3 separate regions of the Homo sapiens genome follow, and regions 2 and 3 are each linked to region 1. The links come from fine-mapping of genetic effects on gene expression. A gene starts in region 1. Each other region holds a variant in brackets. All regions are shown on one strand. Distances are between the middles of the regions. Region 1 holds the start of DPP3-DT (DPP3 divergent transcript). Region 2 overlaps TOP6BL (TOP6B like initiator of meiotic double strand breaks). Region 3 holds the start of MRPL11 (mitochondrial ribosomal protein L11).

Region 1 (10,471 bases):
TGCTGCATACCCATATTCCCAACTACTTGGGAGGCTAAGCCAGGAGGATCACTTGAGTCCAGGAGGTTGATGCTGAAGTGAGTCATGATCACACCACTACACTTCAGCTTGGGTGACAGAGCAAGACCCTGTCTCAAAGAAAAAATGTCAAATCTTGGGTCCACCACAGACCTGCTGAATCAGATGCTGCATGTCAGCATGACTGCCAGGTGACTTGTGTGCATATTGAAGTCCCGGCTCTTATACCTGCTATAAGAACCACCTCTGCCCGAGATAGGCTCAAGTCTCATAACCCTGGGAGGGATGCCCCCGGCCCAGCACTTCCCACTGTTCCTGGTGATGACCAACAAGCTCCATTTTTGAGAGCACCTAAAAGTTCACAGAACACTTCCACATCTCGCCCTTGTTCAGCCTGCGGATCAGCAGTCAGGGCGAGTGGTGCTTTTCCTTTATACACGAAGAGGCCGCAGCACCCAGTGAGGCTGGTGACACCCACAGTCATGCAGGGTGGAAGCGACAGGGTCCATGCTCTGCTCAGGGCTTCTGACACTCCAGTTGGGGCTCCTTCTACTGCATTTTCCATCTCTACCCCACCAGCCCCCCATCCCCACCTTCCCCAACCCTCCCTTGGCTCACCTTGGGCAAGTTGGGAACAAACTTGGTGTCACCAAAGGACTTGTAGTTGCCCATGTTGGAGTAAACACCCGCGGCATAGACCAGGAACGCCTGAGGGGGAGGCAGGCATCAGAGACCCAGGAAGCACAGCCTCCCTGACCCCAGCGACACCTCCTCCTGAGATGCGAATGCCCCAGCAGAGCCAGTGTGGGTGAGGCTGGGAAATGTGTGGGCAGGACCTAGGTCCTGGGAAGCCCCAGTCTGGCCCACACTCACTTCCACAGACCCATTTTCACACCCCCGTTGTCTGGCCTAACTGATCTTCTGGGCAGTTCCCAAACACACCCAAGCATTCGTCTGCCTTTTCCCTCCCCACCCCAGCACCCTCTCAGCCACCTGAAGCTACTGTGTCCTTTAAGGCCCAGTTCCAGCAGCACCTCCCTCTTTCTCCAGAGCCTGTCCTCAGCCTCTGACCTGTCAGGCAGCTGGCCTTGGAAGCATCACATGTTAGAGCCGGAGAGGCCTTAATCATCTGTCTATTCTATGGCTTCTGCTGGCCCCAGATCTTCCTCTGGTAACAAGACCTCAATCCTCCTTTTGTGGGTGGGAGGGTGGGGTGGGGGATCTCCCTTCCCCCAGCTCCAGGGGTGGGCATGTAACCTGGCTCAGTCAGTCTGAGAAACCACCATCCTTGGCTACAGGATGGACACAAGGCTCAAGCTGGCATAAGAGAGCTACCCAGGACATTTCCCATTGGCAAAGAGCCTCTGTACACCAGGGATCATCAGGCCTGGAACTCCTGGAGCTCCCCTCCAGGAGTAAGAAAAGCAAGCAAGCTGAGAGACGAAGACTGCATCCCAGTGGTAGCACTGAGTCCGAGTCCAGCCATGCCTGAAACTTCCTCTAGACCTGGACTTTTCAAGCATGTGACCCAACAATTCTCCTTTTCATGTAAGCCAATTTGAGCTGGGTTTCTGCCACTTGCAAACATATGAATTCCCCTAAATGGCCAGGCGTGGTGGCTCACACCTGTAATCCCAAGCACTCTGGGAGGCCGAGGCGGGCAGATCACGAGGTCAGGAGATTGAGACCATCCTGGCCAACATGGTGAAACCCCATCTCTACTAAAAATACAGAAATTAGCTGGGCGTGGTGGTGCATGCCTGTAATACCAGCTACTCAGGAGGCTGAGGCAGGAGAATCGCTTGAACCAGGGAGTTGGAGGTTGCAGTGAGCTGAGATTGTGCCACTGCACTCCGGCCTGGTGACAGAGCGAGACTCCGTCCCCCACAAAAAAAAAAAAGAATTTCCCTGAAAATAATAACGCTTGGGTTGCACCTTTCTGTTTATAAACATTTCCACGGATATTAGCTCTTTTAATGAGTAAGCCAAGGCCTCAAGATGGGAAGTGAATGCCCAAAGTTCAAAAGAGGTAGAATAAACAGTACATCAGCTCAGAGAGAAACAATCCAATCCCTTTATTTCACATATAGAAAAACAGGCCATATTCTTGTACATTCTTGGTGGGAATATAATGCAGTGAAGCTTTTTTAGAAGATGATTTAACAGAATCAGTCAATTGTAAATGTACAGAGCCTTTGACCCAGCAGTTCTTCTAGAAATAGATCCTCCTCACATGTGTGCACAAGTATGCTCACCATGGCACTGTTTGTAAGAAAAACGGGACAAGCTAAATGTCCAGTAATGAAGATTAAATTGATTATAGTGTACACTGCTGTGGAATGCTTTACAGTCAATAAAAAAGAATGAGGTACATTTAAATGTACCCCATTCTCCAAGTTCTTCAAGACATGGCATTCAATGGAAAAAGCAGGACACAAAGCAGGAAAAGAACATTATCTCATTTCTATAAAAAAGAAAATAAGGAACTGATTCACCATGCATATACACATAAATGTATGTAATACACAGATGGGATTGAAAAGGCTGTAACCAAGGCTGGGCACGATGGTTCACGCCTGTAATCCCAGCACTTTGGGAGGCTAAGGCAAGTGGATCACTTGAGGCCAGGAGTTCAAGACCAGACTGGGCAACATGGTGAAAACCCACCTGTACTAAAAATACAAAAATTAGCCCGGTGTGGTGGCACATACCTGTAGTTCCAGCTACTTGGGAGGCTGAGGCATGAGAAGTGCTTGAACCTGGGAGGTGGAGGTTTGCAGTGGGCCAACATTACGCCACTGCACTCCAGCCTGGGTGACAGAATGAGACTCTGTCACAAAAAAAAAATAAAAAATAAAAAAGAGAGAGAAAGAAAAGGCTGTATCAGCCTCAGTGGGTTACCTCTGAGGAGGGCACTGAGAATGAGTGATCTTTGTGTTTTCTTTTGTGTCTTTCTGCATTGCTGCAATGCACTAAGAATTTGTGTATTACTTGGCCAATACATCCAAAAACAAAAACCAAGGGACAGGCAGAACATTCTGCCCAGGGCCACACAGTGTGGTAGAGAAGAACTGGTCCTGAACTCAGACCTCCTGATACCTACTCTGGACTCCTTCTTCTGCCTTCCCTGAATCTCCACCACAGTTTCTTTTGTTATAATCACAGCAGCCATCATTTATCTTGAAGTCAGGCACTGTTCTAAGTGGGTCATCACAACACTAAGAGGTACAGACATCCCACATGCATATTTTACGGGTGAGAAGACTGAGGCTCCAGAGAGGGGAAGTGCCTGAATTTGTAACCTTTGGTCTAATCCTCCACCTACCCCTTGAAAGAGACAGACATTTGCATCCTGGTCTTTCACACCCAGAAGCCACTCAGGTAATGTGGGTTGGCCCAAGAGAACTGACCTGATACTCCTCCTCGGTAAGGCCTTCAGCCAGGGCATGTTGGCGCAGCTGGTCGGGGTCCTGGGCGCGGAAGAGGCGGCTGAGCAGAGCATAGATGTAGGGGGCCTCAGGGGAGGTCTGAAGCAGCACAGCCAGGCCTCCGTACCAGGCGGCACGGGACAGGTGGTAGGCATAGAGGCGCTCTGTGGGTGACAGCAGGCGGAAGGCCTCACGGCAGTCCAGGCTAGACACGCCGATGTCATTGGGCAGGATGTACTGGGTGTCCGCCATGGGCCCTGCTGAGAACCATCACTGTCATCACAGCTGTTGTTTACCCCATACCAATTGCATACCTGGCTCTGAACTCTTATGATCTCATTTAATCCTCCCAAAAGCCCATGTGGAAGGGAATACTATTGTACCCATTCACCAGATATGCTAACTGAGGCTTAGAGAAGGTGAGATGACTCACCCAAGGGGTCACAAAATACACTGGTGGACCATATTTGGTCTGTAGTCCCTAAACCTTAAAGATTGACTCTAAGGTCAGGCATGGTGGCTCACACCTGTAATCCCAGCACTTTGGGAGGCCGAGGTGTGTGGATCACCTGAGGTCAAGAGTTCAAGACCAGCCTGACCAACATGGTGAAACCTCCTTTCTACTAAAAATACAAAAATTAGCCAGGCTTGGTGCCAGGCACCTGTAATCTCAGCTACTGGGAAGGCTGAGGCAGGAGAATCACTTGAACCCAGGAGGTGGAGGCTGCAGTGAGCTGAGACCGCACCATTGCACTCCAGCCTGGGCAACAGAGTGAGACTCCACCTCAAAAAAAAAAAAATTGATTGACTCTAACTACCTAGTATTACAGATGGGGAAACTGAGGTTCAGAGAGGCTAAGAGCCTTGCCTAATCCCACAATGGAGACATCAGCAGCAGAGATCCTCATCTCTAGGCTCCCAGCCCAGGCCCCTCCCTGCTTCCTTGTTCAGTATTATTTTTTTAAGACGGAGTCTCACTTAGTTGCCCAGGCTGGAGTGCAGTGGCATGATCTTGACTCACTGCAACCTCCGCCTCCCGGGTTCAAGCGATTCTCCTGCCTCAGCCTCCAAAGTAGTTGGGACTACAGGCGTGCATCACCATGCCCAGCTAATTTTTTGTATTTTTGATAGAGACGGGGTCTCGCTATTTTGTCCAGGCTGGTCTCGAACTCCTGGCCTCAAGCGATCTGCTTGCCTTGGCCTCCCAAAGTGCTGGGATTACAGGCGTGAGCCACCGCGCCTGGCCTTTGTTCAGAATTCTTTACACTTTCCACTGTGCTCACAAGGATAAAGTGCCAGGCCGCCAGCTGGAAGGCTCAGCCTTTAGCCAGGACTCGGCCCCAGACTCCTAAAAGTCAAGTCCATTGCTTCACTTTTCTGTACCTCCGTTTCCTCCTCTATAAAAGAGAGAATAACCCCAATATTACCAGGTGGGTGCGCTAATCAGATGAAGTCGCCCTGGACGGAAAGTATCCACAGCAATAAATGATTTTGCTTGAAACTGTCCCATTCTCATCCCTCTAAATGCCTTTTCCTTGGCCCTCCATTCTCCTGCTCGCTCCCTGTGCTCCACCAGGGAAGCCACAGAAGTTCACAACCAGAAGAAAGCCCATTTTACAGATAGGGAAACTGAGGCTTGGAAAGGGCAACAATTTACTGAAGGTCTGACAGCCCCGTTGGAACCCGGGGATTCCCCAACCCGGGGCATTCTCCCCGCCACGCCCCGTCCCGGCTGGGACAGAGTGTCCAGCCTCCTCGCCCTGCCCCGGCCTCCAGAAGCCCCGCCCCAATAGCACAGCCTCGAGGTTCGGAAAGGGCTGTTAACTCTTTGCTCCCCGGAGCACTCCTTGGCCTCGAGGGCGGGGTGAATTTGGAGGGGGTACTGGAGAGTGGGCAGAAAGGGAACGATTTTGCGCTCAGTATGGATTCGCCTTGGTCCCCCGGGATGACACGCTTTGACCCCAAAAGCCCAGGCGCCGCGCCTCACCTGCAGCAGCTGCTCCGTTCGCAAACTCACTTCCTGCTTCCGGCTCCCCCATTCATTGGGGCTCTGCGAACCCCGCCCCCCTTGGCCAACTGCCTGGCCTCGGGGTCCGGATGGGCGTCAGTACCAGCCAATAGACGCGCCAAGACGAGCTTCTCGGCTCGCCCGCTCCCGCCCCCAGGCGCTACGGGGTGGCGCGCGGATTGGCCCTGCGGGCTCGGCCTTTTGTCAGCAGGCCGCACACGCGCCGGACCGGGTACCGCTGTGCCCGGCCTGGCCGCGGCCTAGTCCCGGCAGACGGGACTGACGAGGTCACCAAGCCCAGGCCGAGACGGCGCGGGTGTCAGGGACTTGGGAATCCCCCTCCCCCAGTCCCGATCCCGCTTTCCTTTGGGGTTTCACCTCAGAGGACCCGACAGCACTCTTGCAGGTGGGAACCTACACAATAGGAGTAATGTGGCTCCACCTTCCTCTCGGGACTCGGGACCTGGGGGTGGAGACTTGGAAGTTGCAAAGCTCTCGGTGCCGGGAATCGGGGCTACGGTTGAGTGGGATCGGGCCAGGGCTGAGGTGGTCCCACCCGTGTAGGGGCGCGGAGAAACGCCTCGACTGCTTCACTGTACCACCACCCACCCGCCACGGGCCTGGAAGGAGCCGCTAAACATTCCCGAGCCTCAGTTTCCTTAGCACAAACAGGCTGGTAGTTTCCTGGTGCTTGCCAGATGCCTGATGGATGAGAAAGCCTCCTGCGGCCCCGAAAGGGAGTCCAGAGCAGAGGCGGGCCCGCGGTCCACTTTTACAGGTCTGGACGGACTCACGGGACCACGGTCTGGGTGGGGCATGCGGAAGGGCCTAGGCCAAATGGGGAGTAGTGGTGAGGGCCCAGGGTCAGACTGGGGGGTGGAGTGAGGTTGTCTGGGAGTCTTGGCTTTATGAACCGGAAAACCAGGCTAATAATTGAATCCAATCCAAGGGATATTGTAAGTTGTGATGTGTTGACTGCAGTGCCGCTCCCTATAGTTGCGCAGGGTGAGGGGCGTTTGGGTACTGAAATCCCGCACGGTCTCCTTGCTACGCCCGTGTCTAGGCCAGACAGCCTCTGCTTACCATAGACACCAGTTTCTCATCCACAAAGGTGCCCAAGGCCCTGCTTGACACAACAGTGTTACAAGCTGTTAGCTTTGATGATTACTTGTTATATGGGGGAGTTCAACAAGTTGGTCGGTGTCCTTAGGAAAGTCACCCCTCTTCTTTCCTGTGCCTCCGTTTTCATTGTCTTTAAAATGGGTATAAAGTTGGCTGACAGGTGAAGTTGAAATGTGCACAGGTAAGGGAGGTAGTGCTGCCCACTGCCAGCAGGGGGCAGCTCAGGCAAGGAAAAGACCCCAGTGCTCTCAGGACCCCCCAACCAGCTACGTGATCACATTTTTATGATCACAGATAAGATGAGCATATACTGAGGTCCCTTGCTAGCAGTTTGGCATGGAGGACCTCATTTAATTCTTGCAAAAATCCTGAGGTATGATCACTTTACCCATTGTACAGATAGGGAAACTGAGGCTAAGAGGTTCGCCGACTCCTATAACACCACACAGTTCAGATATCCCTGGCCCCAACATAGAGATACACACACACAGTCACTCACATGGAGCAGTCTATCACTGGAGTCATAACTCCCCAGCCTTGGCTCTTCCCCATGGGAATGCAAAAGGGGTCGGTGAGGAGCAACAGTTACGAATCAACTGTGTTACAGGTGCTCTCTGTATATTCACAACCACCTGGCGAGGTAGTGACTGTTATCCCCTTTAGCACTGAGGAAACTGAGGCTCTAACAGCTGGCAAAGGCAGAGCTGGGACAAGACCAGGGCTCTGACCTCCTCCACCAATACCTCTGAATCCTCCCCAGCATCTACTGTGGTGCCCTTTGCTGGTCTTTCCTCCTAGGGTCTGAGGTTCCCCACTGGAAATGGGATCAGAATGTTCCCCTGCCTGGTTCCCAACAGGGTCAGAAGAGAGAACTTGGAAGAGTTGGATTTTGAGTGCTTTGTGTGTTGTGTGTATGTTGAGGGGAGAGAAGTTGGAATGCTCCCACACCTCCTGCAGCATCCCCACCCTCCCCTTCACCCCCACTGCAGCAGTGCCATGCTCTGGAAGCAAGAATCTGATCACACCCTCCTCCTTCTCTCATCACATTCGGGTGCCCTCTGTCTTCTCAATAACCCAGGTCTGATCTCCCTGGCCGCAACCAGCTGTGTGGCCTTGGTCAGGTCCATCCCTCCCCTTGGAATCTGTACTTCCCTAGGCTCTGTCATCTATTGGGGACGATGCCCAGGTCAGGCCTATACTCAGAGCCTTCTTCTCTTCATCTCCAGAACAGCCGTCTGCCTGTCTTCCTGGCTCGCTCCCTGCAGGAATGGTCTGGGGCAACCCCAGCAACACGCCCACCTGTGGCCAGGATGAATAGGAATCCAGTTCAGGCTTGGCTTCCATGGCAATCAAGGCCCACCAGGCCCCAGCAACCTTCCCTACCCCCCATTCCTTTTTGCTGCCCCCCTCCACACCAGGCATGTTCCCTGCCACACCATGCTGTTCCCCTCACCTGGGCTGCCCTCCCAACTCCTCTCTGCCTCTGGAGATGCTCTGCCATTCAAGACTTGGCTCAGGCTCCAGGTCCTCCCTGGGCCTTCTAGAGCCCCTGGTTCTCACTCCTCTGAACACTTCCAGCCTGGCTAATAGCCCACTGCATCCTGGCCTGGGGTACAGGTGGCCAGCACAGGTGTGGGGGCCAGCTTCCAACACAAGCACGGGTAGGTCCCTCTGCAGACCATGGGCTGCAAGAGGCCCGGCCTTGCCCACTGCAGGGGCCCTGCGCAGGGCTGGGCACGAAGCAGGTGGGTGTCCACCAATCTAGTATCCAAAACCCTGCTTGGTTCACCCCCACCTCTGTTGAAGGAAAGCAACACTGTGATGGAGAGGAGCAGCTGTGGATTCAAATCCTGGCTTGGCCACTTTCTAGTTGTGTGACTTGGTGCATCTGCCCTCATCTCCTCAGAGACAAAAATGGCAACACCTCCCTTCTTGGGTTACTATGAGGATTAAATAACAAAACCTCCAAGAAGCAGAGCCCGGTGTCTGGAGAGTGCTCAATGGACGTAGTTATTATTATCATCATCAGCACAGTGCGGGGCACATGGTGGGCATTCAGGGATGATGGCCCTTGTGTCACAGCCGACACTCTTGACCAGTGAGTCCTCTCTCCTCCCTTTGTTGACTCCTGACCGTCCACAAATGAGGTTCAGAATCCTCCATCCAGCATCTTCCCTGGTCACATGGTCCCAACCTTTTGCTCCACCCCCTTCTCTGTTCCCCCCGCAGTCCATGCTCCAGCCATCCTGACTCTGTCCCTGGATTTCTGGCTTACTGACACCTGAGCCTGTGCACAGGCCCTCCCTTCTGTATAGAGCACGCTTCCCATCTTGTGGACTTGCTTCCCATCTTGTGGACTCGGAGGGTTCCGAGCAGCCGTTGAGGCTGAGCTCCTATGACACCTCCTCCGTGAAGCCTCCCTCACTTTTCCATTACCAGTGAGGCCTGCCACAGCCTGATTTGTACTCTGATCCTGGCACGCATGAAGCCGTGTTGCCATTTGTTAACAGTCTGTCCTCCACTAGACTGTGAACTCCACCAGGGGGGGAACCAGGTCTGATTGCCTCTGTGTCCCCAGATACCACTTAGCACAGAGTCGAGCCCATAGTGGCTATCAGCAAGTGCTAGGCCCAGCCTGCCACCCACCCACCACTCACTTGGGGGCTGGAGGCATTGCACGCATGCGGGGCATGTGGGACTTGTGGGGGCAGCTGAGCAGCGAGGTTTATAGAGGAACCCAGGGCGGCAGCAGGAAGGATGAAGGATGAGTGTCTGAAACTGGGTTGGCAGGCTCAGGGCATAGCCAGCCTAAGCTGGGGGTCAAAGGCCCCTGGCCCCTTCACTCCCCCAGGGGCACACAGTGTCGGCGGCACGATGTGGGATGCCCCAGGAAGGGCAAGGCCATGGGGCTGGGCTTTCCTCCATCGACCCAGGACAGAGCTGGTGCTGAAGGCCCCATCAGCATGACTGGGGTGGAGATCTTGGGGACCTCCTTGGGGGGCCACAGTTGGGGGGAAGGGCACAGCCCATCCAACATGTCCATCTGGTGTGGCTGTGCCAGCAGGGAGTGTCCCACATGCAGAGCTCCCTCTGGGCTGCAGGAGGTGGGGACCTGGGTGGGCAGGTGGGCACAGCAGCAGGGGGCCCCAGGGAGCCTAATCCAGCGGGCCCTGGAAAATGAGGCGGACGCAGCCATGCTCGCCGGTAAGCCAGGCCCCGCAAAAGGGGCAGGCGGCATGGAAAGCATGGGTGCCGTGGGGCAGTGGTGTCTGGGCCCAGTAGCGGGCAGTCTTCTCAGAGCAGACGTGGCCGCAAGGTGCAAAGGCATGGCTAGGCGGCCCAGGGTCCAGGCAGAGGCCGGCCTCCTGGCCAAGCCATAGAGGCACATAAGGCCCCACAAGGCGGCAGAGAGGACATTCGCGCTCCTGGGGGCCCCGCTCCCGCCGGCAGCCCCAGCCGTGGTAGCCATGGACGTGCCCGCAGCGGACGTAGACCCAGGGCTGCTGTTTGTCGGGCGCTGTGCGGCCACGGGCTGGGCTGGGGAAGGCCAGAGTGCTGAGGCCCACGGGGCACTGGGGCCGCGCTGCATTTGCCTCCTGCCGCTGGGCCTCCAGTTGCTTCAGTGTGGGAGCCCGCAGCAGCCCCGCCGGTGTGCGCCACAGCAGTGTGGCCCCACACAGGTCGATGAGAGAGCCGTCCTGCAGCACGTTGGACTCGTTTTCCACCTGCCAGAGGCAGTAGAAGGGCCTTACTGCCCAAGAGGCCCCTGCTGAGCCGCGGGTCCATCCCACAGAGCCTCCCTGGAGAGGACACCCTGGCGGGCAGGGCAGGCAGGGCAGAGGAGCAAGGCAGGCTAGGAGGCCAAGTGGGCAGGCAGGTGCATCCCAGGCACATG
Region 2 (10,471 bases), 280 kb before region 1:
CTTGGTGGATACAAGGGAGGGAGAGGGAAAAAGAGAATAATCTCTCTCTCCCTTCCTCTTCTTATAAAACTGCTAATCTCAGGCCAGCCGTGGTGGCTCACGCCTGTAATCCCAGCACTTTGGGAGGCCGAGGCAGGCGGATCACAAGGTCAGGAGTTTGAGACCATCCTGGCTAACACAGTGAAACCCCATTTCTACTAAAAATACAAAAAAAAAAATTAGCCGGGCGTGGTGGTGGGCGCCTGTAGTCCCAGCTACTCGGGAGGCTGAGGCAGGAGAATGGCATGAACCCGGGAGGTGGAGCTTGCAGTGAGCCAAGATTGCACCACTGCACTCCAGCCTGGGCGACAGAGTGAGACTCTGTCTCAAAAAATAAAAATTAAAAAATAAGTAAATAAATAAATAAATAAATAAATAAAACTGCTAATCTCATGAAGGCCCAACCCTCATGATCTAATCTAACCCCACTTACCTCCCAAAGGCCCCATCTCCAAATACTATCACACTGGGGGTTGGGGCTTTACCATATGAATTTTGCTATTTGTCCTTTAATTGTTGTTGTATAAGTTCTATATGTACACTGGATACTAGACTTTTCTTATCTGTGGATTATTTATTCACCTTTTTTTTCTGAGTTTTGGAACTAGAGACCTTCATTTTCCAGCTTTTTTTTTTTTAGGTATAATTGATCTTTTCACTTTCTTAGTATCATCTTTTGAAGCATAAGAGTTTTTAATATTGATTAAATCCAATTTCTCTACTTTTCCTTTCGTTGCTTGTGCTTTAAATGTCATATCCAAGAAAACATTGCCTAATCCAAGGTCATGAAGATTTAAACCTTTCTTTCTTTTCTAAGAGTTTTATAGCTTTAGTTCTTTGATCCATTTTGAGGTAATTTTTCTATGTGATGTCATCTGACCATTTTTCAGAATGTATTAAATGGCTAGCCATAAAGTCTACTCAAGAAAAAATACAGTATCCCCTCTTCCCATTCCAGCCAAATTCCACTATACCACTATAGGGAGACAACTCTCCTTGTGTTCCCAGCTGAGAAGATGAAAGATGTGTGGTAACCCAGAAGGACAGAGTTGGAACAGTAAGTGCCCAGCTGATTACTCAATGAGGAATTGTAACAGTTCAAGCATTTTAAGCCAGCCAGGTACAAGGCAGGTTAGCTCTCATGGGCTGCTGAATAAAAGCAGTTATGTACCACTCAGCCAGAGAATGAGCCAGCTCCCAGGATCTCTAATAATAAGAGCTATCCTTTTCCTCCTGTTTTATCTATCCAAGTTCAAAAGGAAAAGGAATATGTCAGGGTTGGTAAAAACCACTTCTGTCCTTTCCATCCCCTTCTGTCACATCAAATCTTGAACATGTTCTCAATAGTGAAGTGCAATTAGATAAATGTAACAAGGAAAAGAGTAAAGAAATATTAAGGAAGCAAAAAAAAAAAAAAACAAAAAACAAAAATCTGTTTTAGCGTGTCTTGATCTTCAGCCAACCTTTATAAAATCTTACCAAGCGTTAGGTAAATTTGGCAACAACAGCCTGTTTAGAATGTATCAAAAGCTTAAAATTAAGTGTAGTCTCTCACAGTTTAATGGATAACCAGCAACCTATGAGTCTACAAATGTTTCCCTTCTTAGTATATGAGGCTAAGTCTCAGTTTTCTCATCTCTGAAACAGAGATGATGATAACACTTATGTCTGACTGCTCCTCAAGAATGAATGAGATCATGTCTACAAAATGAGCTCCCGGGGGAAAAAGCGTTAGATAAATTCTGAGCCTTAGAGTTGTTGATTTTGTAAGATATAAAATTATAATAGATTTTTATTCTTGAATACAAGAATCTCAGACTTAAAAAAAAAAAACTTGATTACGTCAGACATTCAAGAGTTCACCATTGTGAGTTTCTTACTCAATGTTGAGCAAGTCTGGACCTGTCAATCTCTCTAACCCATGAAAAGCACCACTCCTCACTTTCTTTCCCAACAAATTAACAAAGAGGACAAAAGTAAACTTGAAAATAAACAGGCTGGGCATGAAGGCTCACACTTGTAATCCTTACACTTTGAGAGGCCAAGGTGGGAGGATCGCTTGAGCCCAGGAGTTTAAAACCAGCTTGGGCAACATGGTGAGATCTCATCTCTACAAAAAATAAAATAACTAGCTGGGCATGGTGGTACACACCTGTGGTCCCAGTTACTCAGAAGGCTATAAATGGGAGGATCCCTTGAGCCCAAGAGGTCAAGGCTGCAATGAGCTGTGGTCATGCCACTGCACTTCAGCCTGGGAAACAGAGCAAGACCCTGCCTCCAAAAAACAAAACAATGAACAACAAAAAAGTCTCCCTGACACCAAAAGGGTAGCATATAGGGAAGAGGCAAAAACTGAACTATCATAGCCATGTAACCATATATCAACAGCAAAGCAGTCCTCCCTGTTTACAAGGACTGGTATTCTTATCTAGTCTTATGAAGAAAAAAGAAGGCTGTAAATTTTATTTGGGAAAAACACTTGCACATCTTTTTAAAATAACTGGCCATACTGTATAAAGAGCTAAGTTATGTCAATAAACATGGAAATGAGAAGCTATTTTAAAAAGACAAAAATAAAAATAATATGAATAGAAGAAAGAGGAAAAAGCAGCAAAATAAAGATCTATAAACATGGATTTTTTTCATATTCCTCCATCCACTTTCCTTTCCTCACTTGAATAAGGACATAATAGGAAGCAGAGCTGAGCAAATAGGACAAACTGAAACAATCATGTTTCACTAAAAGACATTTATGATAGAAATAGTTCTATATAAATGGATAAGTATACACATAAATGAATATATAAATGGAATTATACCTAAGTAGATAAGTATTCAATGCAGACAGTAGCACACATTTAACATGTAGTGACAATTTTTTAAACACATAAGAACTTATCTATCTTAATGGGCATTATTCTGCAAAGTAGAGGGGATTATCCTCTTGAGAGAAGGCCTTAACTCTGGTCTGAAGTACTTAGACCTAATATAATAATAAATAAGGAATCATTAAGGGAAGAATGTAAGCTATGTTTAAATTAATAAGAATTTTATATTATAAAGGCAGAATTAACGAAAAATCAATTACATAATGAGGAAACAAAAAAGGAGAAACCCCACCATAAAAACCAAGATTTTTAACGCTGGAGAATTATGAGTATGTCAATATCACTGAAAGGAATGCAGACATTACACAATAAGTTCATTTCAAGAAACTGAACCCCATGTTAGACATGTTACACAGGATATTTCAGAGGAACTCTCAAATGGAATAGTCTAATTGACATTCAAAGCTATTCCATTGGAGTTTAGGAGACATGTCAGTGATCAAGAGGGGGAAAAATAAGTCTCATCAGCATAGTTAATGTTAGTTAAAGTCTTGAAAGTAGAAAAGCTGTCTGAATTGAATGTAGAATAATGATGCAGAATAATGAAGGGAAGAAAAGCACATTGGTGACTGAACTTTGGGGAATATCCTCTGGGTTATGAGAGAAGCTCTTTCAACTTACACCTCCATTACAGTACTAATCACACTGCATTTTATTTGCAGAGCTGCCTCTACTTCCTGTGACTTCTTTGTGGCAAGGTAGATGTTACAATAAAAGTTTACTGAATAAAAGTATAAATAGTTAGGGACCAGAGAAGAAAGGGGAAAAAAGAGAAAATAAACCAGTAGAGAAGTAGGTGAGTAGGGAGATTACAATGGTCATTGCTTATTAATCCAGCATAAATAAAATACACAGAAATATGAGCCTATTTGGTACAGGAATTGATCTAAAGTATTCCAGATCCAGAGAAAAAAGTACCTTGATACAACCCTGGTAGAACAGATTGAAGAGTAAAGGAAACTAAAGCTGATAGTTCTTCAACAGTTCAGCTCCCCTAAAGAAGGGTCAGACCACTTGTTTTAGACACTGAGAGAAATCAGCCAAATAATGAAGAAAACAACAGAGTTAAACTGAATTTACAGACATATTAACTTTGTATAGATACACAATTTTTTAGCATCTAGAAAACTGATGAGTAATGAATCCAGCTGCCAGAGACTCCCTGATGAAGCTAACTAAACAGTGTAAAGATCAGTAAATGGACCAATTTAAAGCAGTTTGCTATTAGCTTAATAGTGTCAGAAATTCTAAATAATAATAGTAAAAAAGGCATAATTAATGGTGCATAAACCAGGGAGCTAAGGGATTCCTGTCTTATTCTTCACCAATTTCCTTTGTGAGGTTCACTGAGTAATTTTTGTTACTAATTAGTAAGAATAACTAGGCCAGGCACAGTGGCTTACGCCTGTAATCCCAGCACTTTGGGAGGCCGAGGCGGGTGGATCACCTGAGGTTAGGAGTTCGAGACAGGCCTGGCCAACATGGTGAAATCCCATCTCTACTAAAAATATAAAAATTAGCTGGCCGTGGTGGCAGGCGCTTGTAATCCCAGCTACTTGGGAGGCTGAGGCAGGAGAATTTCTTGAACCTAGGAGGCAGAGGTTGCAGTGAGCCAAGATCACGCCACTGCACTCCAGCCTGGGTGACAAGAGTGAGACTCCATCTCAAAAACAAACAAACAAACAAAAAGAATAACTAGCATTATTGAGTGGAGGTTAATATTAAGAGCCCTAACAACTGGAGAGAAGACTTAGGCTACAGTTGGCTACTAAATGTGATTGAGCATGAGCAAATGATTCAATTTTAATTATGTACTTGATGTGCAGTACTTCCTCTTTGTACGAAGAGTTAGCCACTCACACTTTATCACAATAAGGATTAAATGAAATTGCTTTGAGTTTTTAAAGTAACAGTTAAATTAAAACTAAGTCACCATGACAAAAATTGTCTAGAGTTTGTATTGGCATGAGTATGTGGTTATTCCATAAATGATAACCCATAAATGATACTCCCTAAGAGTAACAATGATAATAAAACTATTCTCTTGTAGTTACACGGCTTTTCACTTTTTTCAAAGCACTTTCACAAATATTAGTCAAACAAGTAGCCTTATATATGATCTGACCACTCCTTGTACAAGCACATTAAGTGTGGGTTTATTTTGCAAGGAATGCTCCTATCTCCTCCCTAGTGCTAATAATATACTCCATTTATATAGCTTTTTTTTTTTGGAGACAAGATCTCACTCTGTCACCAAGGCTGTAGTGCAGTGGCGCAATCACAGCTCACTGCAGACTTGACCTCCTGGGCTCAAATGGATCTCCTGCCTCAGCCCCCTAGTAGCTGGGACCCCAGGCACACCTAGCTGATTTTCACATGCCTGGCTGATTTTTGTATTTTTTGTAGAGATGGGGTTTCATCATGCTGCCCAAGGCTCGAGCAATCTGCCTACCTCAGTCTCCCACAGTGCTGGGATTTTAGTCAGAGCCACCATGCTTGGCCAGATTTTCACTTCTTTATTTTTTTTTTTTTTGGAGATGGAGTCTCGCATTGTC[G/A]CCCGAGCTGGAGTGCAGTGGCATGATCTCAGCTTACTGCAACCTCCGCCTCCCAGGTTCAAGCGATTCTCCTGCCTCAGCCTCCCAAGTAGCTGGGGTTACAGGTGCCCACTACCACCCCCAGCTAATTTTTTTTTTTTTTTTTTTGTATTTTTAGTAGAGACAGGGTTTCACTATGTTGACCAGGCTGGTTTAAACTCCTGACCTTGTGATCCGCCCGCCTAGGCCTCCCAAAGTGCTGGGATTACAGGTGTGAGCCACCGCGCCCGGCCGATTTTCACTTCTTTCAAAGCAATTTCACAGACATTAACAGGAGCAGGGCCACTAGGAATGATCTTTCCCTTCTCTGCATCAACCCAAAGACAATAATTCAAAAATGAACAAGGAAAAACTTATAAATAATTAGATGTTTTTGAAGCAGTCAGCCCATGATTCTTGAACTTGGATTCAGATCTCCCAAAAGTCTCAGAATCAGAGCAAACTCTTCAGGACAATAGCTGATATTCCCTTTTTTCTAGGCATAGGCTTAAAGAGGCAATAGAATAATTAAGGTATCTTCACTAGGGGTATAAAGGGAGAAACCAAATCTGTCTTGTTCACTACTATAACTACCTTTAAGTGGAGCACAAGGCCTAATGCATAGTAAATGCTCAATAAATTATCATTGTGATTAATACTAAAGGGAGAACATTCTTACCAAATGCTCACAGAATGTTCTGGAGCTAAAATAAAAATCTTGGCTGGGCAGGGTGGCTCACACTTGTAATCCCTACGTTTTGGGAGGCTGTTGCATGAGAGCTTGAGACCAACCAGAAGTTTGAGACCAGCCAGGGCAACAAAGTGAGATCCCATCTTTAGAAAAAATTTAAAAAGTAACTGGGCATGGAGGTGTGCACATGTGACCCTAGCTACTCAAGAGGCTGAGGCTGGAGGATGGCTCAAGTCCAGGAGCTTGGGGCTGCAGTGAGCCATGATCACACCATTGCACCCCAGTCTGGGTGACAGAGCAAGGCCCTGTCTCAAAAATAATAATAGGACAGGTGCAGTGACTCATGCCTGTAATCCCAGCATTTTGGGAGGCCGAGGTGGGAGGACTGCTTGAGCCCAGGAGTTCAGGACCAGCCTGGGCAACATAGTGAGACCTCATCTCTAATAATAATAATAATAATAATGTTTAAAATCTCATTTTTTATTACTTTTCCTCCACAATTAGTTTTTAAATGTGCTCAAAATAAAACAAAAAACATTAATGTGCTCACACCAAGTAGAACCTAAACAAAATTAGGGTCACAGAGCAAAAGCCGAAGTCTGTAAAATATCCAAGGATACAGACAGTTGGAAGGTAGATTCAGAGGGCCAAGACAATTTACAAAGGAAAAGGGGAATACATCTGATCACTTCATTTAGCAACAAGCATTTTTAAGTCCTCATTCTTTTTTATTTTAAAAACAGTCTTACTCTGTCACCCAGGCTGGAGCACAGTGGCATGATCATAGCTCACTGCAGCCTCAAATGCCTGGGCACAGGCAATTCTGCCTCAGCCTCCTGAGTAGCTGGGACTACAGGTATGCCCCACCATGCCTGGCTAATTTTCTTTATTTGTAGAGATGGGGGTCTCAATATATTGCCCAGGCTAGTCTCTAACTACTGGGCTCAAGCGATTCTTCCATCTTGTCCTCCCGAAGTGCTGGTATTATAGGTGTGAGACACTTCAGCTGGCCTGTCTCCATTCTTCAACTAAAAATTACTTCAGAAAAGAAGTTTCAAAAGGTAGAATTGTTTCCTATATATTTGTGTCTTTAGAGTATTCATCTTGTAACTGAGTTGTAAAAATAGTTTGTTTTCTTTGATATGACCAAGATAAAGAAAGGTATTGGCCGGGCGCGGTGGCTCACGCCTGTAATCCCAGCACTTTGGCAGGCCGAGGCAGGCGGATCACGAGATCAGGAGTTCGAGGCCAGCCTGACCAACATGGTGAAACCCCGTCTCTACTAAAAATGCAAAAAATAGCTGGGCGTGGTGGTGCGCACCTGTAATACCAGCTACTCAGGAGGTTGAGGCCGGAGAATCGCTTGAACCCAGGAGGCGGAAGGTTGCAGTGAACCAAGATCTCGCCCCTGCTCTCTAGCCTGGGCGACAGAGCGAGACTCCGTCTCAAAGAAACAAACAAACAAAAAAGGGTACTCTGGGTACCTAGGCCTGGGTTGTCCTTTGCATCCGCACATGTTCGCAGTCCTCTCCGCCATGCTGCCACTGCTGCGCTGAGTGCCCCATATGCTGGGCTTCTGCGTCGCCGGCTTCCACACCCCCGGGGCCCGCCCCGCCTTTCCGGCAGCTCCTGGCCGGCGCCCCGGCTGTGCGCCCGCCCTTCAGGCTGCTCAGTTTGCGCGCGTGTTCTGCGGCCGGGCCCCCTGCGGCCTCGCGGGCCCTGCACCTCCGGCTGTGGGTGTGGCGTGCGAAGGAGACAAAGCTTTGATTGATTTCCTGAGTGATGAAATTCAGGAGGAAAGGAAAATCCAGAAGCATAAAACCCTTCCTAAGATGTCTGGAGTTTGGGAGCTGGAACTGAATGGGACAGAAGCTAAATTAGTGCGGAAAGTTGCTGGGGGGAAAAAATCACTGTCACTTTCAATATTAACAACAGCATCCCACCAACATTTGATGGTGAGGAGGAACCCTCGCAAGGGCAGAAGGTTGAAGACCCTGAATTGATATCAACTCCCCATTTCGTGGTTGAAGCTATAAAGAATGATGGCAAGAAGGCCCTTGTGCTGGACTGTCATTATCCAGAGGATGAAGCTGGACAAGAAGAGGAGGCTGAGTGACATCTTCTCTATCAGGGAAGTTAGCTTTTGGTCCACCAGCGAGTTTGAATGGAAGGATACTAACTATACACTCAACACAGATTCCCTGGACTGGGCCTTATATGACCACCTAATGGATTTCCTTGCGGACCAAGGGGTGGACAACATTTTTGCAGATGAGTTGGTGGAGCTTCGCACAGCCCCGGAGCACCAGGCGTACATTACTTTTCTTGAAGACCTCAAAAGTTTTGTCAAGAGCCAGTAGAGCAGACAGACACTGAAAGCCATAGTTTTATGGCAGGCTTTGGCCAGTGAACAAATCCTACTATGAAGCTAGACATGTGCTTTGAAATGATTATCATCCTAATATCATGGGGAAAAAATACCAAATTTAAATTCTATGTTTTGCACCCTCATTTATTATCATTTTTTTCTTTTTTCCTTTTTATCTTTTTTTCTTTTTTTTTGAGACGGAGTCTCTCGCTCTGTCGCCCAGGCTGTTGTGCAGTGGCGCAATCTCGGCTCACTGCAAGCTCCGCCTCCCGGGTTCACCCCATTCTCCTGCCTCAGCCTCTGGAGTAGCTGGGACTACAGGCGCCCGCCACCACGCCCGGCTAATTTTTAGTATTTTTAGTAGAGACGGGGTTTCACCGTGTTAGCCAGGATGGTCTCGATCTCCTGACCTCGTGATCCGCCCACTTCAGCCTCCCAAAGTGCTGGGATTACAGGCGTGAGCCACCGCGCCCGGCCTATCGTTGTTTTCTATACAAATCTATTATTTCTAGATTTTTGTATAACATGATAGACAATAAAATGGGTTTATCTCCTCCAAAAAAAAAAAAAAAGGTGCTTTAAGTAATAATTGAGTTGCTATAAATTTGGGTATAAATTCAAATTTTAATTGATTTGCATTTTACAAAGCACGAAGAAAATTTGTCATTAAAAAATGGTAATACATTTCATAAACATTTATTTTATAACATTATACCTTTCCAATGTAGCTTTTTGGTTGTTCCCTTTTTTTGTTTGTTTGTTTGTGACCAAGTCTTGCTGTCACCCAGGCTGGAGTGCAGTGGTGTGTGATCACGGCTTACTACAGCCTTTACCTCCCAGGCTCAAGCAATCTTCCCACCTCAGTCTCCTAAGTAGCTGGGAGTACAGGTGTGCACCACCTTCCCTGGCTAATTTTTTTTTTTTTTTTTTTTTTTTTTTTTGTAAAGATGGGGTCTCGTGATGGTGCTAGGCTGGTCTTGAACTCCAAAAAGTTCTACTGGATCAAGCAATCCGCCTGCCTTGGCCTCCTAAAGTGCTGGGATTACAGGCATGAGCCACTGTGCCTGGCCAGTTGTTGCCATTTTAATACACAGTATGTTTTCTTTTTTTTTTTTTGAGACAGAGTCTCTCACTCTGTCACCCAGGCTGGAGTGCAATGGTATGATCTTGGCTCACTGCAGCCTCTGCCTCCTGGGTTCAAGGGATTCTCCTGCCTCAGCCCCACCAAGTAGCTAGGACTATAGATAGGTATGCACCACCATGCCTGGCTAATTTTTGTATTTTTAGTAGAGATGGGGATTCACCATGTTGACCAGTCTTGAACTCCTGACCTAGGTAATCTGCCTGCCTTGGCCTCCCAAAGTGCTGGGATTACAGGCATGAGCCACTGGGCCTGGCTACAGTATATTTTCTTAAAGCAAGGACAGATATAAGCTTTTAAAAATCTATTAATATTCCAGATTTAGTCTGGGAAAGTTTATTTTTAAAAGTTATTTTGTAAAATTTGTAAATTAACAATTCATTAGGAAAAAATAGGCCAATGGATAATACTTATGTAGCAAACAACCATAAGAAATAAAAATGAAAGCGTAAGAGTTCTAAGGTCATTTTGGCTTCCTTAAAATAAATGTTATGGCCTTTGGCTTGTAGAGTATTCTTAAGTCCAAAAAAATAAAAAGAAATTCTGCCAGGCATGGTGGCTCACACCTGTAATCCAGCATTTTGGGAGGCCGAGGCAGGCAGATTGCCTGAGCTCAGAAGTTCGAGACCAGCATGGCAACACGGTGAAACCCCATCTCTACTAAGATACAAAAAATTAGCTGGGTGTGGCAGCATGCAACTGTAGTCCCAGCTACTCGGAAGGCTGAGGCAGGAGAATTGCTTGAACCCAGGAGGCAGAGGTTGCAGTGAG
Region 3 (10,471 bases), 45 kb after region 1:
CCCTTTCTGGGCTGGCCAAGGCCGGGGCCGGCTCCCTCAGCTTGCAGGGAGGTGTGGAGGGAGAGGCTCGGGCGGGAACCGGGGCTGCGTGCGGTGCTTGCGGGCCAGCGCAAGTTCCGGGTGGGCGTGGGCTCGGCAGACCCCGCACTCGGAGCGGCCGGCCGGCCCCACCGGCCCCGGGCAGTAAGGGGCTTAGCACCTGGGCCAGCAGCTGCTGTGCTCAATTTCTCGCCGGGCCTTAGCTGCCTTCCCGCGGGGCAGGGCTCGGGACCTGCAGCCCGCCATGCCTGAGCCTCCCGCCCCCGATGGGCTCCTGTGCGGCCCGAGCCTCCCCGACGAGCACCACCCCCTGCTCCACGGCACCCAGTCCCATCGACCACCCAAGGGCTGAGGAGTGCGGGCGCACGGCGCAGGACTGGCAGGCAGCTCCACCTGTAGCCCGGGTGCGGGATCCGCTGGGTGAAGCCAGCTGGGCTCCTGAGTCTGGTGGGGACGTGGAGAACCTTTATGTCTAGGATTGTATGGGATTGTAAATGCACCAATCGACACTCTGTATCTAGCTACTCTGGTGGGGACTTGGAGAATCTTTATGTCCAGCTAGGGGTTGTAAATTCACCAATCGGCACTCTGTATCTAGCTCAAGGTTTGTAAACACACCAATTAGCACCCTGTGTCTAGCTCAGGGTTTGTGAATGCACCAATGGACACTGTATCTAGCTACTCTGGTGGGGACTTGGAGAACCTTTGTGTGGACACTCTGTATCTAGCTAATCTAGTAGGGACATGGAGAACCTTTGTGTCTAGCTCAGCGATTGTAAACGCACCAATCAGCACCCTGTCAAAACAGACCACTCGGCTCTCTGTAAAAGGGACCAATCAGCAGGATGTGGGGCGGGGGCCAGATAAGAGAATAAAAGCAGGCTGCCCCAGCCAGCAGTGGCAACCCGCTCGGGTCCCCTTCCACACTGTGGGAGCTTTGTTCTTTTGCTCTTTGCAGTAAATCTTGCTACTGCTCACTCTTTGGGTCCACACTGCCTTTGTGAGCTGTAACACTCACCGCAAAGGTCTGCAGGTTCACTCCTGAAGCCAGCAAGACCACGAACCCACTGGGAGGAACAACTCCAGACGCGCCGCCTTAAGAGCTGTAACACTCACCGCGAAGGTCCGCAGCTTCACTCCTGAGCCATCGAGACCATGAACCCCACCAGAAGGAAGAAATTCAGAACACATCCAAACATCAGAAGGAACAAACTCCAGACACGCAGCCTTTAAGAAATGTAACACTCACCGTGAGTGTCCACGGCTTCATTCTTGAAGTCAGGGAGACCAAGAACCCACCAATTCCGGACACACTAGGGAAGTTTAATTACTTTTCAATTCCTCAGATAAGGAGTTTTTGTCTCTGGTCACCAGGTGATTTTTGCTCTCCTCATGATTCAAAGGTCACCAGGTGATTTTTGCTCTCCTCATGATACAATAAGATGCTGGCTTATTTGGTCACAGATGATATATCGAATGTTCTGGGTCTGTTAAGCCTCACAACAACTCAGGTTTTATCTTAATCGTACGGTTAATAATAGCACATGCTGACTAGGTGCCGGGCATTGTTTTAAGCACTTTGCTAACTTAGTCCTCACAGCAATCCTAAGAGGTAGGTGCTACATATTACAATACCTGCTGTAGTGGGGAGGAGACAAAGCATAAGAAACTTGATTAAGTTCACATGCAGTGGCGCAATCCTGGCTTACTGCCGCCTCCAACTTCTGGACTCAACTGATCTTCCCGCCCAGTAGAGATGGGGTCTTGCTGTGTTGCCCAGGCTGGTCTCAAACTCCTGGGCTCAAGCGATCCTCCTGCCTTGGCCTCCCAAAGTGCTGGGATTACAGGCGTAAGTTACCGTGCCCAGCTCAGGGTCTACACTCAACCGTACTGCCTTTCAACAGCATGTGAGGAACAGAGAGAGGAGAGACTTCCATTACCAATCAGGAGCTCCAGGTGTATTTCAAACCCTAGGATTATCACCGTGTGCAGCAGATGGCGCCCTGGCGCATAGCAATTGGCCGGACCTGCACACGGAGTCAAAACTACCATACCCACAATGCTATGGGGTATCAAGGTCCCACCCTACTGGTTAGCTGTCCGAGGTAGTGCCTGTGCGCGTTCCTGTGGGAATGTGTGTACCTAGGCCATTCGGGCCCTTCCTTTATCTGCATAAAACAAGTTAAAAAGTGTTTTATCCTCCTCTCATCCTCCTTGTCTTACTAGTTGGCGAGCAATAGGGTTGAAACAAGGCTGCTGTTTGTTGGCCTCACCTGCCCTAGCCTAACGTGAGGACCCTTGACCTCTGGCCCAAGATGGTGGCGCCCAGAGCTTCGCTCTTGCTGCTCCCCTGAGGTGAACTGAAGCCAGCAGCCCCGCATCATGTCAAAGCTCGGCCGGGCCGCCCGGGGCCTCAGGAAGCCCGAGGTCGGCGGTGTGATCCGGGCGATCGTGCGGGCAGGCCTGGCCATGCCCGGGCCCCCACTAGGCCCAGTGCTGGGTCAGGTGCGGCCGTGGCGGGAACCCGACGTGGGGGTTGTCTAGGATGGTGGAAGCTAGGACGCGGATGGAGGGCGCTGGCCCTGGAACCACCCGGGCCTCGGTTCAGAGCTCGGCTCTGCTTCTCACACGCTTTATGTCCTTGTGCTGGTTACAAAGTGTCTTCCACCTGGGCTTCCTCATCCCTTCTTCAATGTGCTGTAATGAGGATAACGTGGGAAGATGCGTACGATCTTCTGGCTCACGGAGGGGTAGTTGAATCTGGGTACAGATGGGAACCCAGAGAAGTGAAGACGAAGGAGGGAACGGACGGCGCCTCCTGGGCGATAGGAAGCCGTCCCCTCCTCTCACCACTAACCCCCTCTGCTTCCCTCACAGAGAGGCGTTTCCATCAACCAGTTTTGCAAGGAGTTCAATGAGAGGACAAAGGACATCAAGGAAGGCATTCCTCTGCCTACCAAGATTTTAGTGAAGGTGGAGTCTGGACTCTGATCCCTGGTTTCCTTCTCCCTCTGTTCTTCCTCGGCCCTGGGACTGGTCATCTGGGGTTGTTTCTCTGCTCCTGACTTGACTTCCTATTACTGGGCTCCACTTTCCCCATTTAGGACTAGATCATATTTTTTCTGAACCAGCCCCATCTTGCCATGTTGCAGTTCCTCCCTTTGCCCCTCCATCTCACTGGGGCTTCCAGAGCAGAATGAGGGCAGGAATAGAGGGGACAGGGATGTTTGCTGCAGATTTATTTTTTTCTTTCTTTTTTTCTGAGATGGAGTTTTGTTCTTGTCGCCCAGGCTGGAGTGCAGTGGCACGATCTCCGCTCACTGCAATCTCCTCCTCCCGGGTTCAAGCAATTCTCCTGCCTCAGCCTCCCGAGTAGCTAGGATTACAGGCGCCCGCCACCACGCCCGGCTAATTTTTTGTATTTTTAGTAGAGATGGGGTTTCACCATGTTGGTCAGGCTGGTCTTGAACTCCTGACCTCAGGTGATCCACCCGCCTTTTCCTCCCAAAGTGCTGGGATTATAGGCATGAACCACTGCGCCTGACCCCGATTTATTTTTTTCTTGTGATTCTGTGGTCTTTTTGAGGGATGCCATTGGAAAGTGAGATGAAGGAAGCAGGGGGCAAGACATTAGAAGTTCCCTGGGATGGGGCAGTAGGAAGAGAGAATCTCATATTTCTTTTTTCTGTTAAGCCTGACAGGACATTTGAAATTAAGATTGGACAGCCCACTGTTTCCTACTTCCTGAAGGCAGCAGCTGGGATTGAAAAGGGGGCCCGGCAAACAGGTGAGGGCCAGGGTAAGCATCTGAGATTCTGGGGGCTCCAGAAGGAAGCAGTAACACCTGAAGAGCCACTTGTTCCTTCCTCCCAGGGAAAGAGGTGGCAGGCCTGGTGACCTTGAAGCATGTGTATGAGATTGCCCGCATCAAAGCTCAGGATGAGGCATTTGCCCTGCAGGATGTACCCCTGTCGTCTGTTGTCCGCTCCATCATCGGGTCTGCCCGTTCTCTGGGCATTCGCGTGGTGAAGGAGTAAGTATCCTGGCATGTGCAGTGTGACGAGAGGGCCCAGAAAGCTCTGGACTCGGGCAGAGCTGAGAGGGCCCATTGCAGTGGGAAAGTCAGCTTTTAAGTCAAGGGACCCTAGATTCTAGAGGATGGGGTGGGGGTGGGAGGCCACATTCATTGATCTGGAATACTCTTATTGGGCACCTGTTATGTATTAGACGTTGTTCTGCAAATGTTCTAAGAAATGGAAAGATCTCCATGAAGGATCCAAGTGGGAGAAGTTCAGTGTGACCTGGGTCTGTCGTCCTAGAGGCAAGTGGAGAATGGTATGAGGGAAGGACCAGTGCGAAGGACTTTTGAGCTGTGTCAGGTTCATGCTTGCTCCTGAGGCAAACAGGGACCCCTGTCATGGGGCTTCGGATGACTTCAGGAATTGTTTCATTGAAGTAAGATGTTGGGTGGGAGGGTGTCTGGCCTAGACAACCGCCGGGACAGAGATAGCATTCAACCCTTTACTGGCCTCTTGCTGCTGTGTTACATCCCATGTCAAGGCTGACAATTGATTATTTCCCAAGAAGAATGGGGTTAAGCATGGAGCAGACACAGACTTGAATTTTCTCAAATCTTTTTTTTTTTACTGGGAGCATGGAGATGGGTAAATCTGACCCCTGTCCTGGGAGAGACACACATGCTCAGCCCCGTGACGTCATTGTACAGCATATTCTGGGGCACAGAGTACCCCAGTTAATCTGGACTGGGGCCTGGCTGATGCCTCAAAGGATGAGTAGGGATTTAATAAGGGAACAAAAGATAGGGGTGTTGGGGGTTGGGAGATGTTGTCCCTGGAGAGGAAATGAGCAAAGGTATGGAGGCTGGGAAGTCAGGGAGGCAGAAGGGGCCAGGCAAGCTGGGCTTGGAGACAGGGGCCCCTTCAAGCCCCTGCAAGACATAGGGTCCTGTGAGCTCCCACTGGTGACCAATCATGCGCCAACCATTTGTCTTTTTTCACTTGCAGCCTCAGTTCAGAAGAGCTTGCAGCTTTCCAGAAGGAACGAGCCATCTTCCTGGCTGCTCAGAAGGAGGCAGATTTGGCTGCCCAAGAAGAAGCTGCCAAGAAGTGACCCTTGCCCCACCAACTCCCAGATTTCAAAGGAGGTAGTTGCAAAAGCTGTGCCCAAGGGGAGGAAGGAGGTCACACCAATATGATGATGGTTTTCATGACTTTGAATGATATATTTTTGTACATCTAGCTGTATCGAGGCATCAGGCCTGAATAAACATCCTTTCTTACCCACTGTCATCTTCTATCTTGGGACCTCAGGGAAGGGAACCAGTACTGGTGGTAGCCAATATGGGCAGACATTAGGAAATTGGGGTCTTCATACTGCTTCTCAGATGTGCAAACTGAGGTTCAGCCAAGCAAAGTAACTTGCCCAGGTCCTTTTTTTTCTTTTTTAAGTTATAATTTTGTTTTATTGCCCAGGTTCTGAATTGGTGCCAGAGGTAGGAATAGAACCCAGGCCTTCTCATTTGAAATCCTGTGTTCTTCCCCTCCCCAGGGTGGGAACTATGG[T/G]TGCTAGGGCTGAGGTGTATTGCTTACTTCTTCCATCAAAAATCTCTTTTATCTCTGAACAACTTGCCACCTCTGCAGAAACAAGTCCCTGTGGAGATCTCAGTTCAGCCCCAGGCAGGGTTACTACATGGAGTACCCAGATCCCAGGGGCTACTTCAGGCCCTTCTACTAAGCTCCTGACCCTGGCTCTGGGTCAGATGTTGGCTGAACATGAACTATTGTAGGGCTGACAGCTACAGACCACAGAAAGAGCAAAGCTTCAGTAGGTTCCTGCCTGATGGAGAAGTCCTCGGGAAGCCCTTGGCCTTCTATTTCCTCATTGTCCTTTCAGAGAAGAGAGCAGGAGTTGGGGGAGAAAGGAGATTCGCATTTACTGACCATCTGTTATGTGCTAGACACTTCATTTTACACTGAGAAAATATGGAAAGCATAGATAAACACCTAAAAGAAAATAAAAACCTCATGTTATCCCACCACCCAGATGAGACTTCTGCCAATATTTGGTGTATATCTTTTCTGCTCCTTTTTTTCTTTGTGTGTGTATTTATGTATAATGCTTTTTGAAAAAACAAACTGGGGTCATACTCTATATAGCTGTACAACGCTGTATACTTTCAAGTTAGCAACTATTTAGAACATTTAAAAATTGTCTTTCTTTTTTTTTTTTTGAGACGGAGTCTCGCTCTGTCACCCAGGCTGGAGTGCAGTGGCGCCATCTCAGCTCACTGCAAGCTCTGCCTCCCAGGTTCATGCCATTCTCCTGCCTCAGCCTCCCAAGTAGCTGGGACTACAGGCGCCTGCCACCACACCGGCTAATTTTTTTTGCATTTTTAGTAGAGACGGGGTTTCACCATGTTAGCCAGGATGGTCTTGATTTCCTGACCTCATGATCTGCCCGCCTCGGCCTCCCAAAGTGCTGGGATTACAAGCGTGAGCCACTGCACCTGGCCTAAAAATTATCTAAAACAATTTTAAATGATGGCTTAGTGGCTTAGTTTTTTTTTTTTTTTTGAGATGGAGTCTCACTCTGTCTCCCAGGCTGGAGTGCAGTGGCACAATCTTGGCTCACTGCAACCTCTGCCTCTCAAGTTCAAGTGATTCTCCTGCATCGGCCTCCCAAGTAGCTGGTGTTACAGGCGCTTGCCACCACACCTGGCTGATTTTTTTGTATTTTTAGTACAGACAGGGTTTCACCATGTTGGCCAGGCTGGTCTCGAACTCCTGACCTCAGGTGATCCACCCGCCTTGGCCTCCCAAAGTGCTGGGATTACAGGTGTGAGCCACCGTGCCTGGCCAAGACTTCATTTAAAAAAAAAATTTTTTTTTAATTAATTAATTTTTTTTTTTTGAGACAGAGTCTTGCTCTCGTCACCCAGGCTGGAATGCAGTGGCAGTGGCACGATCTCAGCTTACTGCAGCCTCCACCTCCCAGGTTCAAACAATTCTCCTGCCTCAGCCTCCCAAGTAGCCAGGATTACAGGTACCCACCACCACGCCTGGCTAATTTTCGTATTTTTAGTAGAGACAGGTTTTGCCATGTTGGCTAGGCTGGTCTCAAACTCCTGACCTTGTGATCTGCCTGCCTCGGCCTCCCAAAGTGCTGGGATTACAGGCGTGATCCATCGCGCCTGGCTTTTTTATTTTTAAATGTTTTAGAGACAGGGTCTTACTCTGTAACCCAGGCAGTGGTGCAGTAATAGCTCACTGCAGCTTCAAACTCCTGGGCTCAAGGGATCCTCCAGCCTCAGCTTCCCAAGTAGCTGGGAATACAGGTGCATGCCACTATGCCTGGTGAATTTTAAATTATGTTTATTTTTTATTTACTTTTATTTTATTTTTATTGTTGTTGTTATTTTTGGAGATGGAGTTTCATTCTTGTCTCCAAGACAAGAAATGGCACAGTCTTGGCTCACTGCAACCTCTGCCTCCCACGTTCAAGCGATTCTCCTGCCTCAGCCTCCCGAGTAGCTGGAATTACAGGCATGTGCCACTACACCCAGCTAATTTTTGTATTTTCAGTAAAGATGGGGTTTCACCATGTTGGCCAGGCTGATCTCAAACTCCTGACCTCAAGTAACCTTCCCACCTTGGCCTCCCAAACTGCTGGGATTACAGGCGTGAGCCACCATGTCTGGCCTATTTTGTTTTTTTAAAGAGACAGTATCTTGCTATGTTGCCCAGGCTGGTCTCAAGCTCCTGGCCTCAAATCCTCTCGCCTCAGCCTCTCAAAACACTGGGCTTACAGGCATTAGCCACTGTGCCAAAAGAAGTCTCTTTCTTTCCTTCTTTCCTTCCTTCTTTCTCTCTCTTTCTTCTTTTTCTTTCTTTCCTTTTTTGAGACAGGGTCTCGCCCTTTTGCCAGGCTAGAGTGCAGTGGTGTAATCATAGCTCACTGTAGCCTCCAACTCCTGGCCTCAAGTGATTCTCTCACATCAGCCTCCCAAGTGGTTAGGACCACAGGTGAACACCACCATGACTGGCTAATTTTTTTTTGTTATTTTTTCTGTAGAGATGAGATTTCGCCATGCTCCCCAGGCTGGTCTCAAATTTGTAGGCTCAAGCGATCCTCCCACCTCGGCCTTCCAAACTGCTGGGATAACAGTCATGAGCCACCATGCCTGGAATCTTGTTTAACTTTTTCTTTTTTCTAAGAAATGTCAGGCTATAAACCATTCTTAGAGCTCACTGGTTTCTGAACACCAAGTGTAGAAATAGCCACTTCCTCTTTGCCCAATATCACGGGCACAGCAGACTGCCAGCATCTGCGGTGCTGGCATGTTCCGGAAGGCATCTTCAGGGTAGTCACCCACACCTACTCAGCAAGCCAGAGACACCCAGCCTGTGGCCAGGGTGGGAATCCTTTCTTATCTTTTAAAGCTTTCTTGGCCAGACGTGGTGTTGCATACCTGTAATCCCAGCACTTTAGGAGGCCGAGGTGGGTAGATCACCTGAGGTCAGGAGTTAGAGACCAGCCTGGCCAACATGGTGAAACCCTGTCTCTACTGAAAAAAAAAAAATTAGCTGGGGATGGTGGCGGACACCTATAATCCCAGCTACTCAGGAGGCTGAGGCAGGAAAATCACTTGACCCCGGGAGGCGGAGGTTGCAGTGAGCCAAGATCATGCCACTGCATTCCAGCCTGGGCAACAAGAGCGAAATTCCATCTCAAAAAAAAAGGAAAACAAAAACAAAACTTTCTTATCCATTTTTCCATCTTTTTCTCTATTTTTTTTTCTTTTGAGACACTCTGTCACCTAGGCTGGAGTGCAATGGCACAATCTCGGCTTACTGCAAGCTCCACCTCCCAGGTTCAAGCAGTTCTCCTGCCTCAGCCTCCAGAGTAGCTGGGACTACAGGTGCGCACCAACACGCCTAGCTAATTTTTGTATTTTAGTAGAGATGGGGTTTCACCATATTGGCCAGGCTGGTCTTGAACTCCTGACCTCGTGATCCGCCCAGGCTCCCAAAGTGCTGAGATTACAGGCGTGAGCCACCGTGACCAGGCAGTTTTTTCTAAGTAAACAACAACCCTTCACTCACTCACTAAAGTCAGAAACAGGAGACTTCTCTTTTCCTCACCCCCATTTGAAATCCATTAGCAAATCCTGTCAGTTCTGCCTCTGAAGCATTCCAAAGCCAGTCACTCACCTCCGCCTGGACTTGAGGGAAGCACTTGGGTGTGAGTTCTCGTCCTATTTGCCTGGATCACTGCAGAAGCCTAAACTGGTCTCTGCTTCTCCTCCTACCTCATTCAATCCATTCTCCACACAACTTTCAGTGGGATGGCTTAAAAATGTGAATTATATGTCGTTCTCTCACTTAAATTTCCCCAGAGGATTCCTATTGCACATGAAATAAAATCTAAGTTTCTTATCCTGGTCCAAAGGCCCTGGGTAATCTTCCTTCTCTCCAGCCACTCTTCCCCTTGCCACACTGACTTCTTTCCTATTCCTTAAACAGGTCAATCCTTTCCCATTTTGATACCCTTAGTTTTGCTTTTCTTTGACCTGGAGCACTCTTCTTCCTCTTTCCTTCCTTCTTTCCTTCTTTCCTTCCTTCCTTCCTTTCTTCCTTCCTTTTCTCTTTCTCTCTCTCCTCTCTTTTCTTTCTTTCTTTCTTTTTTCTTTCTTTCTTTTTCTTTCTTTCCTTCTTCTTTCCTTTTCTTTCTTTCTCTCATTCTGTCACCCAGGCTGGAGTGCAGTGGCACAATCTCAGCTCACTGCAACCTCTGCCTCCTGTGTTCAAGTGATTCTCCTGCCTCAGCCTCCCGAGTAGCTGGGACTACAGGCGCCCGCCACCACGCCCGGCTAATTTTTTATATTTTTAGTAGAGACGGAGTTTCACCGTGTTAGCCAGGATGGTCTTGATATCCTGACCTCGTGATCCGCCCGCTTCTGCCTCCCAAAGTCCAAAGTGCTGGGATTACAGGGGTGAGCCACAGCGCCCGGACTTTTTTTTTTTTTTTTTTTTTTTTTTTTGAGACGACGTCTCACTCTTGTCACCCAGGCTGGAGTGCAGTGGTGTAAGTGCAATCAAGGCTCACTGCAGCCTCGCCCTTCTGGGCTCAGGTGATCTTCCCACCTCAGCCTTTTGGGTAGCTGGGACTACAGGTGCACACCACCACACCTGGCTAACTTTTTGCTTTTTTTTTTTTTTTTTTTTTTTTTTTGTAGAGACGGGGTTTTGCCTTGTTGCCCAGGCTGGTTTCAAACTCCTGGACTCAAGCTATCCACCTGCTTCAGTCTCCCAAAGTGCTAGGATTACAGGCACAAGCCACCGTGCCCGGCCTCTTCTTCTTTCTTATCTTTTAGGTCTTAGCTCAATGTCACCTTAGAAGAGCTTTCTGATGC

Evidence for each region. PIP is the estimated chance that this variant, and not a neighbour inherited with it, causes the effect.
Region 2: its variant is fine-mapped to the expression of DPP3-DT in whole blood (TOPMed, PIP above 0.99).
Region 3: its variant is fine-mapped to the expression of DPP3-DT in whole blood (INTERVAL, PIP above 0.99).

Annotation. Positions count from the first base shown.
Region 1 is chr11:66,475,428-66,485,898 of GRCh38, reverse strand. It overlaps DPP3-DT (DPP3 divergent transcript), which reads left to right and starts at 5,650. Exons shown (of 4, transcript NR_120586.1): 1 at 5,650-5,860. PELI3 (pellino E3 ubiquitin protein ligase family member 3) reads right to left here. Exons shown (of 8, transcript NM_145065.3): 8 at 8,562-10,301. The coding sequence ends at 9,732. It overlaps DPP3 (dipeptidyl peptidase 3), which reads right to left and starts at 5,465. Exons shown (of 18, transcript NM_130443.4): 1 at 5,434-5,465; 2 at 3,429-3,706; 3 at 637-726. The coding sequence starts at 3,698. RefSeq lists enhancers at 782-1,143, 5,326-5,495, 6,072-6,639, 7,578-8,171, 8,809-9,629 and a silencer at 5,636-5,685.
Region 2 is chr11:66,759,655-66,770,125 of GRCh38, reverse strand. All of the region lies in intron 2 of TOP6BL (TOP6B like initiator of meiotic double strand breaks), which reads right to left. It also overlaps the pseudogene C1QBPP2. Among named protein-coding and RNA genes, the nearest start is that of TOP6BL, 20 kb to the right of the region's middle. The variant G/A (reference allele first, on the strand shown) is at 5,483.
Region 3 is chr11:66,430,705-66,441,175 of GRCh38, reverse strand. It overlaps MRPL11 (mitochondrial ribosomal protein L11), which reads left to right and starts at 2,328. Exons shown (of 5, transcript NM_016050.5): 1 at 2,328-2,544; 2 at 2,917-3,012; 3 at 3,733-3,826; 4 at 3,913-4,072; 5 at 5,064-6,101. The coding sequence starts at 2,422. The coding sequence ends at 5,169. LOC124900311 (small nucleolar RNA SNORA43) reads right to left here and starts at 8,413; the gene lies at 8,274-8,413. RefSeq lists an enhancer at 2,080-2,339 and a silencer at 2,430-2,569. The variant T/G (reference allele first, on the strand shown) is at 5,622.